Regions from separate parts of the Homo sapiens genome. Here region 2 is linked to region 1. Evidence: fine-mapped expression QTL. A gene starts in region 1. The other region holds a variant in brackets. All regions are shown on one strand. Distances are from middle to middle.

Region 1 (8,334 bases):
CTGTTTGCAGATGACATGATTGTATATCTAGAAAACCCCATTGTCTCAGCCCAAAATCTCCTTAAGCTGATAAGCAACTTCAGCAAAGTCTCAGGATACAACATCAATGTACAAAAATCACAAGCATTCTTATACACCAATAACAGACAAACAGAGAGCCAAATCATGAGTGAACTCCCATTCACAATTGCTTCAAAGAGAATAAAATACCTAGGAATCCAACTTACAAGGGATGTGAAGGACCTCTTCAAGGAGAACTACAAACCACTGCTCAAGGAAATAAAAGAGGATACAAACAAATGGAAGAACATTCCATGCTCATGGGTAGGAAGAATCAATATCATGAAAATGGCCATACTGCCCAAGGTAATTTACAGATTCAATGCCATCCCCATCAAGCTACCAATGACTTTCTTCACAGAATTGGAAAAAACTACTTTAAAGTTCATATGGAACCAAAAAAGAGCCCGCATTGCCAAGTCAATCCTAAGCCAAAAGAACAACGCCAGAGGCATCATGCTACCTGACTTCAAACTATACTACAAGGCTACAGTAACCAAAGCAGCATGGTACTGGTACCAAAACAGAGATATAGATCAATGGAACAGAACAGAGCCCTCAGAAATAATGCCACATATGTACAACCATCTGATCTTTGACAAACCTGACAAAAACAAGCAATGGGGAAAGGATTCCCTATTTAATAAATGGTACTGGGAAAACTGGCTAGCCATATGTAGAAAGCTGAAACTGGATCCCTTCCTTACACCTTATACAAAAATTAATTCAAGATGGATTAAAGACTTACATGTTAGACCTAAAACCATAAAAACCCTAGAAGAAAACCTAGGCAATACCATTCTGGACATAGGCATGGGCAAAGACTTCATGTCTAAAACACCAAAAGCAATGGCAACAAAAGCCAAAATTGACAAATGGGATCTAATTAAACTAAAGAGCTTCTCCACAGCAAAAGAAACTACCATCAGAGTGAACACGCAACCTACAAAATGGGAGAAAATTTTCACAACCTACTCATCTGACAAAGGGCTAATATCCAGAATCTACAATGAACTCAAACAAATTTACAAGAAAAAAACAAACAACCCCATCAAAAAGTGGGCAAAGGATATGAACAGACACTTCTCAAAAGAAGACATTTATGCAGCCAAAAAACACATGAAAAAATGCTCACCATCACTGGCCATCAGAGAAATGCAAATCAAAACCACAATGAGTTACCATCTCACACCAGTTAGAATGGCAATCATTAAAAAGTCAGGAAACGAGGTGCTGGAGAGGATGTGGAGAAATAGGAACACTTTTACACTTTTGGTGGGACTGTAAACTAGTTCAACATTGTGGAAGTCAGTGTGGCGATTCCTCAGGGATCTAGAACTAGAAATACCATTTGACCCAGCCATCCCATTACTGGGTATATACCCAAAGGATTATAAATCATGCTGCTATAAAGACACATGCACACGTATGTTTATTGCGGCACTATTCACAATAGCAAAGACTTGGAACCAACCCAAATGTCCAACAACGATAGACTGGATTAAGAAAACATGGCACATATACACCATGGAATACTATCCAGCCATAAAAAATGATGAGTTCATGTCCTTTGTAGGGACATGGATGAAACTGGAAACCATCATTCTCAGCAAACTATCGCAAGGACAAAAAACCAAACACCGCATGTTCTCACTCATAGGTGGGAACTGAACAATGAGAACACATGGACACAGGAAGGGGAACATCACACTCCAGGGACTGTTGTGGGGTGGGGGGAGGGGGGAGGGATAGCATTAGGAGATATACCTAGTGTTAAATGAGGAGTTAATGGGTGCAGCACACCAACATGGCACATGTATACATATGTAACAAACCTGCACATTGTGCACATATACCCTGAAACTTAAAGTGTAATAATAATAAAATTTAAAAAAAAGAAAGTAATGCAAAAACTGCAAAAAAAAAAAAAGAAAAAGAAAAGAAAATGGGCATAACACCTACTTCCTAAAGTTGTTGTGAAGCTTAAATTGGAATAAATTAGCTAACATACGTAAACACTTAGATATTGCCTGGCATATGATAGGTGCTCAATAAATGTTAATCTTATACCTCAGGTGAATTTGTGACTGGCCTTTTGCTTTCTTGGGAGGAGAGACACAGGCATTATAAATTTCACCTGTCCATGTGGTTTGTACTCTTCCTTTCTTCTGTTTAGCAAAATGCCCTTTTAAAAAGTCCCAACCTTGCTTCAGTTGAACTGATGGGCAAATGTGATTTCCCACACCTGAGCTAGGGGATCTAGGCTCTCAGACTGCCCTGAGAGCTGTGCTGCAGAGGCCTGGCCAGAACCCTCAGAGCAGCTCCGGACTCCTTCCTCTGTCACTCCTCCACATTCAACTAGAATCCTATGTCTCCCGAGTTGACCCTGTTGCAAATCTGTGCCCCTTTTCATTTGCATGGGCCCTGCCGAAATTCAGAAGCTTAGTTCTTCCCATGACTATAGGGGCCTCGGGCAGGTCTCTTGCTCTGTCAAGGTCAAAACCCCTACTTTCCTAAATTCAACCATTGATTCTCCATCTTCATCTTACTTGATCAGCCACACTTGACATAGTTGATCACTTCTCCCTTTAAACATCTTCACATGGCTTCTGGGACCTTTTGTTTTCCTCCTACCTCCCTGGCCACTCCTTTTCAGACTCCTTTGCTGGTTTGCTCTCATTTTTCCCTAACCTTTACATGTTGATATGCCAGAGCACCTCAAACCCTTAGACCTCATCTCTGCTACTCGTGCTCCCATGGTGATCTCATCTAGTCTCTGGTTTCAAACACAGAGTGATCACTCCTGTACTTGCTGTTTCCCTTTTCCTGGAGTTCTCTCTGCCTCCTGCAGGTAGGAAGTGATTCGAGATAAGAGAGGGAGAGAACTCTTCTGGCCAGGATAGAGGGTGATTCTGAGAAGGCTTCAAGGAAGAAGTGAGCATTTGAGCACGGCTACTTGAGGAAGGCTAGGCCATGGACATTAGGGTGCAGGCAGGAGCAGAGCAAACATGCTTGTAAAAGGAACAGCAATTATTCTGTTTTATATTTATATCAGCCCATGGTGGCCCCCACAGCAGAGTGGCTTGATCTCTCACCTCCTTCAGGTCTTTGTTTAAAGATTAACTTCTCCATGAGGCCTTCTATGAACATAACCTTTAAAAACATAAATCCCCTTCCTACTGGGACTCCCCCAGTTCCCACCCTGAGACCCCCTATCTCTCTTCTCGATTTTATTTCTCTCCATAGGATGTGTATCACCACCTGACTTACTAGCTATTTACTATATATTAGTTTATTTCTTCCCCATTAGAATGTAAACTTCCTGAGGGCAGGGATTTTGTCTGTTGAGTTCAGTTCTGTATCCCCAGCACCTAAAACAGTGCCTGTCCATAACAGGCATGTTAAACATTGTTGGACAGATGAATGAGTGAATGAAAAATGGTAGTACCTTTCCTCCTCCAGTCCATCCTACACAAAGAGGCAAGATTAATTTCCCTAAATGCGTGAGCATTAGGAAGTGGGAGGGATTGGAGGAGGAAATTATAATAAGGAATCCATAAATTACTTAAGCCCATAAAACAAAGGTAGGAAACATTCAAGATAAGAGACCTCTTCTGGCCAGGATAGAGGTTGGTTCTGAGAAGGCTTCAAGGAATAGGCAGACATTTCAGCAAGGCTGCTGAGGAAGGATAGGCTGTGGAAATTAGGATGCAGGTAGGAGGATCACAGAGCAAACACTCCAAGGTGGGAAATGCAAGTGTGTGTAGAAGGAACAGCAAGTATTGTTGGGTTGGGCTGGCTTATGAAGTTGTGACGGGCTGAGGGAGAGACAGGACTGGAAAAGCACGTTGGGGTCAGGTTGCAGAGGTCCTTGACTGACAGAGAGGGGAGCTTGGTCTGTGGGGAATCTTCTGCTCTGTGTGGTCAGAGGCTGGTCTGACTCTCCGGCCTTGCCCCAGTCTTCCTATCCTTCATCCAGCCCCGGCTGGCTCGGTAAAAACGGCGCGAATCTCGCTCTCCCTGGGTAACTAGGGTCCCCACTGCCTGGCTAGTGGTGCTTTTCGCGTCTTCACTGGCACCATTAATGAATGAAGTCTGGCTCCCACCCGCGGGGAAGGGAGGAGCCTCAACCTCGGGTCCTTTGCTCTCCTGCAGCACTCCTGCCCGGGTCCCGCCTCGGGGTCGCCAGGCCCTGAACCCCAACGCCGGCATTAGTCGCGCCTGCGCACGGCCCTGTGGAGCCGCGGAGGCAAGGGACGGAGAACGGGGCGGAGGCGGAGTCAGGGCGCCCGCGCGTGGGCCCCGCCCCCTTATGTCGGGTATAAAGCCCCTCCCGCTCACAGTTTCCCTAGTCCTCGAAGGCTCGGAAGCCCGTCACCATGTCGTGCGAGTCGTCTATGGTTCTCGGGTACTGGGATATTCGTGGGGTGAGTGCCGTCTCAACGGTAGAGCCGCTCGGTCAAAGAGACTGACGCGGAGAGGGCGGGTCTCTGGGTCCGCGATCTCCAGCAGGAGCAGCTCTACGCGGGAGCCTTTTCGAGCTGCCGAGCCACGGATGTCGACCCCTGCCCAGCCTCTGGGATCGCGGGCCCTGTGGGGAGGGGCGGAGGAGACCACGCCGGAGCCGGGCCTAGGGGCCGCTTAACCACCGCCCCGGCAGGACGCAGGGACTCGGCAGCCCCGGGCCGGGGAACGTTAGCGGGCGGGGGTTGGGAATGGGTGGGAGCTGCGCAGTCGCTGAACCGCTGTCTTCCCCAGCTGGCGCACGCCATCCGCCTGCTCCTGGAGTTCACGGATACCTCTTATGAGGAGAAACGGTACACGTGCGGGGAAGGTAATGCCGCTCCGCGTGCCCGTGCAGCCAAGCTGGCCCTCCACCTGCCCTGGTCTTCTTACGCCCAGAGGGTGGTGGCGTCGCGCCAAGGCCGGGTGGGACGTTTGCCCCAATCTGGGTGAATAGAGACACATCCTTTATCTGGAACTGGGGGTTCTCTTTTTAACATAGCCCAAACCCGTCTTAATGCTTAACCAAATAGGGCTCAGAGGCTCAATGGTTATGCTTTTGGGGCCTGGGAATTTGAGGTATTGGGACCAAGTCATTTCTTTAGATCTTTTGCTCTTGTCAGGTGGGGTATTAAGGAGGTTGGGTCCCACTTAATTCCGTCTCTTACAGCTCCTGACTATGATCGAAGCCAATGGCTGGATGTGAAATTCAAGCTAGACCTGGACTTTCCTAATGTAAGTGGCTTTAGTAGAGGTGGCGGGCAGAAGGGAAAGCCTTCAAGTATATCCATCCTTGCCTCTCTCCTGCCTGGTACAGAAGGATGCAAAATAGGGGATCTTAACCCGGATAGAATAAATAGAATTCAGGGGTCCTTGAACTGGATGGATATGTATTTTCATTCCCATTAACCACTAGCAAAAGTTATTTCCTTTTATTGTGAAGAGAGACAATAAGTGACATTGGTTATTAGCCATGTCTGTCACTTTGTCACTAGTAGAAATCAGGTATTTTCTTTTTTGTGTGTTTCTTGTTCTTTTGTTTTGAGACAGTGTCTCACTCTGTCGCTCAGGCTGGAGTGCAGTGGCGCAATCACAGCTCACTGCAGCCTCAACCTCCCAGGCTCAAGCAGTCCTCCCACCTCAGCCTCCCAAGGAGCTGGGACTACAGGCACACACCACTATGCCCAGCTAATTTTTGTATTTTTGTAAGAGACGGGGTTTTGCCATGTTACCCAGGCTGATCCTGAACTTCTGGGCTCAAACAGTCCTCCCACCTCGGCCTTCCAAAGTGTTGGGATTACAGGCATGAGCCACTGTGCCCAGCCTGAAATCAGGTAGTTTCATATTCTATAACATGCGTTGCAGATATTTTAAGTGATATTTATATACATGTAAGTAAATATATACATATAATGTTATTTACTTTGAGATTATGTTAGTCATTACATCTGCTTGCTATTTAATGCACTAATAGGCACATGTTACTCTTATTTGAATTTTTAAAAATATTTTTTGATTGTGTAAATTATCTATTTTGCTTCATGCATTTAACAACTTTATTCTGAGAAAAGGTCCATGGCATGCACATACACTCACACATACACACACCAATTTAAGAACCCCTGTCTAGAATCTTGTGGACCCAGTTGCTACCTTCTACTTATTTTCTTTTTTCTCCTAACACAGCATCTTCTCACTCTTGTTCACTGCCCTGCAAGTGTTCTTTTCCCCTGGAGAGAGAGGTAGGGAATCAAGAGAGAGGCAGGTTGTTCATTTGTCCTGTCCTTTTCCTTTCAGCTGCCCTACCTCCTGGATGGGAAGAACAAGATCACCCAGAGCAATGCCATCTTGCGCTACATCGCTCGCAAGCACAACATGTGTGAGTGGGGTAGGGCTGGTGAGGGACCCCAGGCTGGTAGTTTGTCTGAGAGTGGATGATGCCAAGGGTGATTTGTTGTCATTTGGCCTACAGGTGGTGAGACTGAAGAAGAAAAGATTCGAGTGGACATCATAGAGAACCAAGTAATGGATTTCCGCACACAACTGATAAGGCTCTGTTACAGCTCTGACCACGTGAGTTTCCTTAGCACACATCTGCTGAATGGAGTATCAGAAAAAGGGGTATTTAGGAACCCAAGGGTTATCTCTGTTCCATTCTGCTGCTGCTACCTTCCCACCAATCCAGATTGTTAGAATAAGAAACAGAACTTATATTTTTTGGTTTGTTTTGTCATGTAATTCTGGTGCTGGTGCCTCTTCTTTCTAAACTCCTCTTTCCCCACCCTGCCATCCTCAAGTGAAGGCAATGAGAACCCACCTAGAGAAGGGGCTACTAAGTGTCCATCACTGGCCTGTGCCCTGATTAACTACAAAGATGATCACCACTATTCTCATTCTGTTTTTTCCTCTCAGGAAAAACTGAAGCCTCAGTACTTGGAAGAGCTACCTGGACAACTGAAACAATTCTCCATGTTTCTGGGGAAATTCTCATGGTTTGCCGGGGAAAAGGTAGGAAGAAGGGAAAAGAAGAGGATACTTCTCTATCTCTGCAGGCTACTACTCCTCAGACCTAAGCATCTTATTGCTTTTCTTCTAGCTCACCTTTGTGGATTTTCTCACCTATGATATCTTGGATCAGAACCGTATATTTGACCCCAAGTGCCTGGATGAGTTCCCAAACCTGAAGGCTTTCATGTGCCGTTTTGAGGTGACGTTTCCTGCACCTTTCTCTTATAAAAACACTCACAGGCTCCCCTGGGACCTGCAGGATCCCATAGTGGAGGATTCTTCCCCGGCTTTTGCCTAATGGGATCAATGGTTGGACACCTCTAGACCTTTAAGTCTTGGGAAGAGCCTAACTTCTATACCTTGGAGGCACTGTCTACAAAAAAATGGAGGAGGTAGACGCAGGCAACACGTGAATGTTGCTGTTCTGGTATGCATCTGTTGGACTGGGTTGGGGTCGTTATAAGATTTGGTGTATTTTCCTTTCAGGCTTTGGAGAAAATCGCTGCCTACTTACAGTCTGATCAGTTCTGCAAGATGCCCATCAACAACAAGATGGCCCAGTGGGGCAACAAGCCTGTATGCTGAGCAGGAGGCAGACTTGCAGAGCTTGTTTTGTTTCATCCTGTCCGTAAGGGGTCAGCGCTCTTGCTTTGCTCTTTTCAATGAATAGCACTTATGTTACTGGTGTCCAGCTGAGTTTCTCTTGGGTATAAAGGCTAAAAGGGAAAAAGGATATGTGGAGAATCATCAAGATATGAATTGAATCGCTGCGATACTGGCATTTCCCTACTCCCCAACTGAGTTCAAGGGCTGTAGGTTCATGCCCAAGCCCTGAGAGTGGGTACTAGAAAAAACGAGATTGCACAGTTGGAGAGAGCAGGTGTGTTAAATGGGACTGGAGTCCCTGTGAAGACTGGGTGAGGATAACACAAGTAAAACTGTGGTACTGATGGACTTAACCGGAGTTCGGAAACCGTCCTGTGTACACATGGGAGTTTAGTGTGATAAAGGCAGTATTTCAGACTGGTGGGCTAGCCAATAGAGTTGGGACAATTGCTTACTCATTAAAAATAATAGAGCCCCACTTGACACTATTCACTAAAATTAATCTGGAATTTAAGGCCCAACATTAAACACAAAGCTGTTGAAATATTGATGAAAATGTAAGAATTTTTGTGACCACGGGGTAGGAGAAGTTTCTTTAAAGACGTAAAAAGAAAAAAACCATAGGCTGCTCTGCCTGTGGAGTAGCCATTCTTTATT
Region 2 (8,334 bases), 30 kb after region 1:
ACCATCTAGGAATTGAATTTCCACCGTGGGATGCCTGGATCGTGTCCTAAGATTGGTGGGAATTGCCTCTGCTTTTGTTGACATGACATTGGAGTCGTGAGAATAACTGCTGATAGTATGGGAAAGCACTTGGAGGATGAGTGGTACCAAGGACTTAAGAAAAGACCAGTGCGTGCAGGAATGCAAGAGTCCTGGCCCCAAATCCAAACTCTGCCAGGTGCAGCTCACTGGGGAGACTCACAAACTCTGGGTGGTAGCAGATCATGACCAGTTGCATCCAGTTGTCCGTGGTCTGGTTCTCCAAAATGTCCACAAGAATCTTCAGAAGAGGAGAAGATTCGTGTGGACATTTTGGAGAACCAGGTTATAGACGTCTCCAGTCAGCTGGCCGGAGTCTGCTACAGACCTGACTTTGGAAGTCCCTCCCTGGTCTGGGCCAAAAGGCAGGGAAATGGGTGACTGGGAGTGGGGTGTGGGACTCACAAAATCTGGGTCATAGCACAGTCTGACCAGCTCCATGTGGTTATCCATAACCTGGTTCTCCAAAATGTCCACACGAATCTTCTCCTCTTCTGTCTCCCCACCTGCCACCCACAAAACACAGACTCAATCTCAGCATCACAGCCCAGCCAAGGAGGAGGTCACCTTCCCCCCGCACATTGCAGCCACCCACACTCACACAGGTTGTGCTTGCGGGCAATGTAGCGCAGGATGGCATTGCTCTGGGTGATCTTGTGAGCCCCATCAATCAAGTAGGGCAGCTGGATAGATGGGAAACCGGGGAAGCTCAGTTGGGCCACCAGGCTCCCCAGCATCCCCTTCCCATATGCAAGGGCAGAGAGGAGACCAGGGCCTGCTCATGGCAGGCCTGAGATAGAAATACTGTCACACTAATAAATGAGCTGGGACACAGAACATCATGCAAGGGCTGTGTAGACAGCCAAGAGTGAGAGGAATTGGGCAGAAGACTCCTGATCTTAACACCTCTAAGGTGGGGAGAGGAGATGCAGTCAGAGACACGTCGCACTTTCCCCCAAAACCGCCCCTTCCCCTGCACCTACATTGGGAAAGTCCAGGCCCAGCTTGAATTTTTCATTCAGCCACTGGCTTCTGTCATAGTCAGGAGCTGTGGTGGGGAAGAAGTGAAAACAAACCTCCCCAGAGCCCAGCCCTCCTTCCCGGGGACCCTCCCAAGGAGCCAGTGGCAAGATCCCTGAGACAGGTGGATCTAGAATCTGACCACTCAGTCCCACATCCCAGGGTTCAGGGAGAAAGAATCCCACTGAGGGCTCTGGACCCCACAACGGCTAAGGCTTCCAGGGTTTAGGGAAGCTCTGAGGGACACCCAACCCAATTAGACAGGGTGTCCAGCATCCCGCCCCAGCATTCTGCCTTGCAAGGCCAGAGGGCTCACTCACGGGAGCTCAGGGAAGGGACAGCCTGCAGCTCCAGCAGGGGAGGCCTGCAGAGGCAGCCACAGGTGGCCACCATGGGTTGCTTGGTGCCAACTCAGCGTGAGTGGGCAGGGCCCGGACACGAGGGTGCCATTACCGTCCCCCAGCGTGTACTTCTTTTCCACATAGCTTGAGTCTGTGTATTCCAGGAGCAAGCGGATGGCGTGGGCCAGCTGGGAGAGATGGCCCGCGGCTCGGGTCAGAGATGGAGGGTCCCTGACTTGGTGACTTTCTCTGCACCAGGCCAGCCCCTAGTCTATACTGCACGTACCCGTCGCCTCCTCTACCCGCCCCCACCCCCAAACACACACACAGCGTCATGCACAGGCCCTTCTGAGGCGGGCAGCCCTGAAGAGGAACGGTCCCTAGAGCCAGTCCTGCAGCTACTCCACACATCCCCGCCTCCGCCCCCTGTCCCACCCACCAGAGGACCCTCGCTTACCCCACGGATGTCCCAGTACCCCAGAGTCATGGGCATGGTGCTGGTTGGTGCGGATTCTGCAGACAGGCATCAGCGGAGCGGGGCTCAGACTTTGAGAGGCCCAGGAGGGGACAGGCGGGGCCTTGCTGCGACCCCGCCCCTCGGCCCGCCACAACCCCGAAACACGCCATTCTGTAGGCCCCCGAGCGAGCGCCCGGGGCTGGAATCAATAAGCCCCCTCCCGCCTCCCAGTCCCCAGGGTTCCGGGAGCGAGGTCAGGGCGCCCAGAAGCCCAAAGCGGGGCTCGGCCTCGCCAGCTTCCCCAACCCGCCCTGAGGCTCCATGAGTCCATCCAGCCCTTGCTAGGTCCACAGCGACTTGGCTGTGCGCTTGAGACACCAGCCAGATCCTAACGGAGCAAAGCTCTTCTCCCTTCTCCTCCCTGCCCGCAGAATCCCTCAGCCTTCTCTCCGCTGCCGAGTTCCCAAGGGCTCTGGGAGACTCCGGCTGCAGGGGTCAGACTAAAAAGTGGTGGTCCCAACCTGGGAATTTAATTCAGCCCCTGTCACTGTAAGAGCAGGACTTCCTCTGATCCGAAAGCTACTCCGAGGGCTTAGTCTCCCCTCTAGCCCCGCCTACACAGGAACAGTGTCAGTGGTATAGGAAGGACCCCCAGGAAAAGGGCCAGAGTAAAGGAAATGTGGTCTGTGTTTTCTGTTAGGGGCCTTTGGATACTGAGTCCTTCGGTCATCTGGCTAAGTACTATGTAAATTAGCCACTTCGTATTTTGGCACAATTTATGAATCGAAATCCAAGGATCAGATCCAGCAAGTTGGTGAGGTATCTGAGGTGCCCCCTAGAAATGTCCAGCCAGTCCACTAGGTGAACCTCACAGAGACCGGAACAGCAACAGCAACAGTGAGTGCAGTGGCCACAGAGAGCAGGCGAGGGAGGATGGAAGAACTTCCCGGACCAAACTGAGGGTCCGGCTGCTATTTCTCTAGGCCCAATAACGAGATGCAGATCAAATGGGGAGGAAGAGAGGTTTTATTTCTGCAACCAGTTACAGGGAGAAGGCCTGGAAATTACTACCAGACCAACTCAAAATTAAAGTTTTCCAGAGCATATATACCTTCTAAGGTATATGTCTACAAGTAAGTGTGCATTCATCTAAAGACATAAGTGATTAACTTCTTTAATCTGTAACTGAGGTCTGGGTCCTGAGGACCTTACTCTGGAGCCTCAGTCTATTTACTTAATCTAAATGGGTCCAGGTGCGGGGGATGATTGCCCTTATCTTGTCTCCTGCTAAATCATGGAGGTTTGGGGAGTTCCTTCAGATGCCCAGTAAACTTGTTTGTGGAGGCCTGGGGAGTTTCTTCAGACTCACAATAAAACTTGTTTAATTCTAAATAGGTCCTGTTAAGAATTCCTTCGTTGTTTTGTCATGCTTTAAGGCCCAGGAAAGGCCTAAGCAAAACTCTTGGTGGGCTTTTGTTACATCCAGCCTCTGTATAAAGGTACTGGCTTTTTTCAGCTTTTAATATTTAATTTCATCACTCAGTCAGTACTGAAACAGTTGTTATGGAGGCCTGTGTTAGTGACACCTGGTCTGCCACAGAACCTGTCCCTCAGAGAAGCCAGAACCCTGTCCTGCTGAGGAGGGAGGTCAGAGGATGGTGGCCAGAGAGGAGCCTGAGGGCTCCCCACAGGATCACAGGCAGGGACTCTCCCCTCTCCAGATCCACCATGCCGGACCTGGACCTGGCTCCTGACCCATGTGTGTTCTTCAGTATGAGACGGTGGCTCCAGTGGCCTTTGAAGTCACACCGTGATATGTGACCCATGGTACAACCTCCGC[A/G]AGAACAATGTCCAACCTGCCAACTTTCTTCTTTCAAGGTAGAAGGAAGACTTTCAAAAGAGTTGTGCAATGGATTAGCCTGGGGTTGACTGCTTTTTTTAAAGGATATTACAAATAATAATGGATATATGGAAATAGATGATAGACCTTTAATGAGAAATCATTTTGCAATGTAAACCAGGCTGTTGTGCTGCAAAAAAAGTAGTTTTTTGTTTTTTGTTTTTGTTTTTGTTTTTTTGTAAATTAGCTAAAACATTGTTAGGACTCCAGAGGATGAACCCAGTATATCAAAAAAGTTTCAAACCACCTGGATAATGTGTGGTTTGGGGTTGAGTAAACAGGTAGACTTCATCACATCCCTATTAGGCCACAGAAATCAGGTGGTCAGCAGGTGGCTGCTAAGTTGGGGCACTTGGACACTGTGTCACTGAGGCTGGCAAGGCACAGTCCTTGTTGCAAACACTCCCCACCCATCCAGACCTGGGCAGTACTCCCAGCTCAGATACCTGGCAGGTATCCATGTTTAGGAAGCAGTTTTGGCCTCACAGTGAATTCTCACATAGATTTTCCTGCATTGAGGCAATAGCACCAGCACAGACACAAGTGCCTGGCCCTAGGAATCATTATATTTCTCATTATGCATTAAGAGTTTATGATTTTGAGTTAATGGGTCTTGAGCTGTGAAAGATAAGATGTCTAGATCCAATTGATAAAAACGATTTTTTAAGAAAGCTAACACTCATGAGAATAATAATTTTGAAACACATAGAACCAGTACTGTTACATTAGTATTGTTTGAAATACTTGTTCCTTGGTTCCATAAAGAAATAGCACTTGAACATAAATTTAATTTCCTCAGCAAGGCTATCGGGGAAACTGCCCCCAGTATTTCAACATAGGTTCTATTTTCCATAAGTGTCAGCTGGCTGAGAAATAAAGAGAAAGAGTACAAAGAGAGGAATTTTACAGCTGGGCCGCCAGGGGTGACATCACATATCAGTAGGACCGTGATGCCGGCCCGAGCCTCAAAACCAGCAAGCTTTTATTAAGGATTGCAAAAGGGGAGGGGGTGTACGAACGGGGGGTAGGTACAAAGATCACATGCTTTAAGGGGCAAAAAACAGAACAGAGATCACATGCTTCTGAGGAAACAGGACAAGGGCAAAAGTAGAACTCCTGATAAGGGTCTATGTTCAGCAGTGCACGTATTGTCTTGATAAACATCTTAAACAACAGAACACAGGGTTCAAGAGCAGAGAACCAGTCTGACCACAGATTTGCCAGGGCCAGGTTTTTCCCCACCCTAGTAAGCCTGAGGGTACTGCAGGAGACCAGGGTGTACTTCAGTCCTTGTCTCAACTGCATAGGACAGACATTCCCAGAGCGGCCGTTTATAGACCTCCCCCCAGGAATGCATTCCTTTCCCAGAGTATTAATAGTAATATTCCTTGCTAGGAAAAGAATTTAGCAATATCTTCCCTACTTCCATGTCCATTTATAGGCTCCCTGCAAGAAGAAAAATATGGCTCTATTTTGCCTGACCCTGCACGCAGTCAGACCTTATGGTTGTCTTCTCTTGTTGCCTAAAAATCACTGTTATTCTGTTCTTCTTCAAGGTGCACTGATTTCATATTGTGCAAACACACATGTTTTACAATCAATTTGTACAGTTAACACAATTATCACAGTGGTCCTGAGGTGACATATATCCTCAGCTTATGAAGATAACAGGATTAAGAGATTAAAGTAAGACAGGCGTAAGAAATGTAAAAAGTAATAATTTGGGAACTGATAAATGTCCATATTAAAATGAAATATTTGCAATTTATGTTCCTCTGCCGCGGCTCCAGTCAGTCCCTCCATTCGGGGTCCCTGACTTCCCGCAACATCTCTCCCTTTCTTTTTATATAAATGTGCCATGGTGATGAAGGCTTATTCGTTCTCTCGGTTTTGACACAGGATTCTTTGGCTGGTCCGGCACACAGTATCCAGATTCCTTCTCGAGCTCCAACCAACATTACACTTTTCCTGGAGTCAAAACGGGAGTCAACACAAGTGTATAAATGACAATGCATTGGACAGTTTGATTGTTTGTCCAAATTTTGATATTTGCCACTAACAGCATGTAAGGAAGCTTAACACAACTCTGTATAGGAATAGTCAGGTTGGAGGTAAACAAAGCAGAATGCTTGAATCTATGTTGATACTGAGGGAGAGGAGCGGCGGTGGCAATGCCCGATGTTCTCCACCATAAAGAAGCAAACCGAGGTGCCTGGGGATGCTGAAGAAGTAGAGGGGCATACCTGGGTCGATAAGAATTATCGTAATGCCAATTGGAGTCCCGTAAAGGAGGATCGGCATCAAAAAGAGGAAAAAGGTTCAAAGGGGATTTATCATGGGGTTCAGAATCACAGATACTGGCAGTCCAGACATGACAATAGCCAATTTCGAAAGTTCTGGGTGTTCTGGGCTCAGAATGGGGAATATCATACAAGGCCTTGGGGGTGGAGGGTAATGTCCTTATCTTCCCATTTTAAGGTAAAGAATGAGCCGAACCACCTATGCAAAGTAGGATGATGATCCTCGTCCTCCCAATAAGAAATAAAATAAGTAGCCTCCAGGAATTCCCCTCCCCCAGAGGAGCAAGTGTTTTTTAAATAGCCCTTTGGTGCCCAGTCTATTACTAAAGCATATGAGTCATTTTTTAATACTACTGCATGTGAGTTAACACAATCTCCCCAAATTAAAGTTTTAGATGGGCCCTCAAAATTTTTAGGACATAGTTTTCCTACAGGTTTATATTGAAAGTATGGGGTATCTCCTATTACTCCCCTTTTCATTTGTCTTAAAGGACAAAGGGAGAGGCCGGAGACCAAATGTCCCCATTTTCCTGTAGCTAATCTCTCCAGAAGATAAGCAGCCCAGACTTGAGTTTCTAGATGGATACAACGAGTTGCATGTCCGAGGCACAGAGGAGGGTATTTATAACCCATAGTAACATTAAATGCAGTGCCTTCTTCTCCTGGTTGAGCAGGGCAATGGTCATCTATAGCTCCAGGCATCTACACACTATCGTTAGTGTAGATTTCCGCAGGAGCATTCATCCAGGTGAGAGGTCGAATAAGTGGAGGAAAAGGCACATAAGCCCAATAAGAATAATTTTGTGTAGCAGGCAAATCAGTGTGAGGGGAAACTGGTGAGACAGAAAGTATAAGGAGTAGAATTATTAAATAAAACCTATTGTAAGCGAGATCCAGTGCTGAAGGAGGAAGAGAAGAACAGAGGGATGTTATTTTCAGGCTAATAGAAATGGTGAGATTTTCAGGTTTGTAAGGAGAAAAAGAAAGGTAATTAGGAGAAGTGGGATTAGTTAGAGGGGTCTCTGTTGCCATTAGGGAGGATTGAATGAGATCCATTTTGATTTGGTGTGCCAGTTTTTGAGGAGTTGGCACAGATCTCACCAGGTATGAGGGCAGTCTCTGACGTGGACATCTCTTCCCTGTGTTTTTCATTGTCAGTATTCACACGAAGTTAAAGTCTTCTAGTGGGCACCCAGACAGGGGATTGATGATCTCCTGGTGAAACACAAGCATACCCTCTTCCCCACATTATAATTGTTCCAGGTTCCCAGGTATTTGTCTGGGAGTTTTTCCATAACACTGGCTTGCTTTCATTTAGGGAGAATTTTTTGCCTGTATAATGGTGTTCGGCTGCAGTCAGAGTATTGTCTTTAGGAACATTTAGAAAGTTTAAAGTAAACAATGCTAAATGGAATTGGGAGTGGGGAGTGGTTAAATTATGCTTTTAAACCATAAAGGAATTTAGTAATTCCTTCATGTTTTGGACCGAGACTGAGTCCAGGAACAGTCCCCACGTTTTCCATTATATGTTGACTGGGAGCACGAGAAGAGTTATGTGGAATATTAATTTCAGCCCCCCATTGTTCCAGCAAATATCTACCCCAAAGATTAATGGGGATTGGCATGATATAAGGCTGAATTGTTCCCTTTTGACCATCAGGCCCAGTGCAAGGCAAGATAAATGTGCTTTGGTGAACTTCATCAGCTTTTCCAACCCTTACTAGTCCCATGTTAGTGGGATGTTTAAGCCAGGAAGAAGGCCATAAATTAGAGGAAATAATAGAAACATCAGCCCCAGTATCTACTAGGCCCTCAAACTTTTTTCCTTTAATATGTATGGTGCAGGTGGGCTGTTGTTTAGAAATTACTTTAATCCAATAAGCGGCTTTTTCACCGCCAGAGCCCATCCCAGGGCCCCCTGTCTTATCTCCTTTGTTTAAAACAATATTAGGTAGTAAAAGTAGTTGAGCAATTGACTCACTGGCCGGAATGGAAACAGGAACCTTGGCAGACACGATTATTTTAATCTCATCAGAGGAATCAGAATTAATGAGACCAGTATGAACTATGATACCTTTAGCAGAGGTGGATGCCCTACCTAACACCAGGCCCACCAAACCTTGAGGTAAAGGGCCAGTGGCCCCCGTGGGGACAATTAAAGGCAAAGAATTCGGTAGTAAATTTAGAGGAGTGGTACTACAGAGATTGACCGCCCTGCCCCCTACTGTGGAGGTAGAC

What was found. PIP is the estimated chance that this variant, and not a neighbour inherited with it, causes the effect.
Region 2: its variant is fine-mapped to the expression of GSTM3 in sun-exposed skin (GTEx, PIP 0.96).

What each region holds. Positions count from the first base shown.
Region 1 is chr1:109,736,393-109,744,726 of GRCh38, reverse strand. It overlaps GSTM3 (glutathione S-transferase mu 3), which reads left to right and starts at 3,689. Exons shown (of 9, transcript NM_000849.5): 1 at 3,689-3,774; 2 at 4,216-4,487; 3 at 4,819-4,894; 4 at 5,234-5,298; 5 at 6,361-6,442; 6 at 6,536-6,636; 7 at 6,976-7,071; 8 at 7,160-7,270; 9 at 7,558-8,334. The coding sequence starts at 4,440. The coding sequence ends at 7,656. RefSeq lists a silencer at 4,250-4,479.
Region 2 is chr1:109,705,911-109,714,244 of GRCh38, reverse strand. GSTM5 (glutathione S-transferase mu 5) reads right to left here and starts at 1,994. Exons shown (of 8, transcript NM_000851.4): 1 at 1,897-1,994; 2 at 1,552-1,627; 3 at 1,062-1,126; 4 at 680-761; 5 at 484-584. The coding sequence starts at 1,932. The variant A/G (reference allele first, on the strand shown) is at 3,737.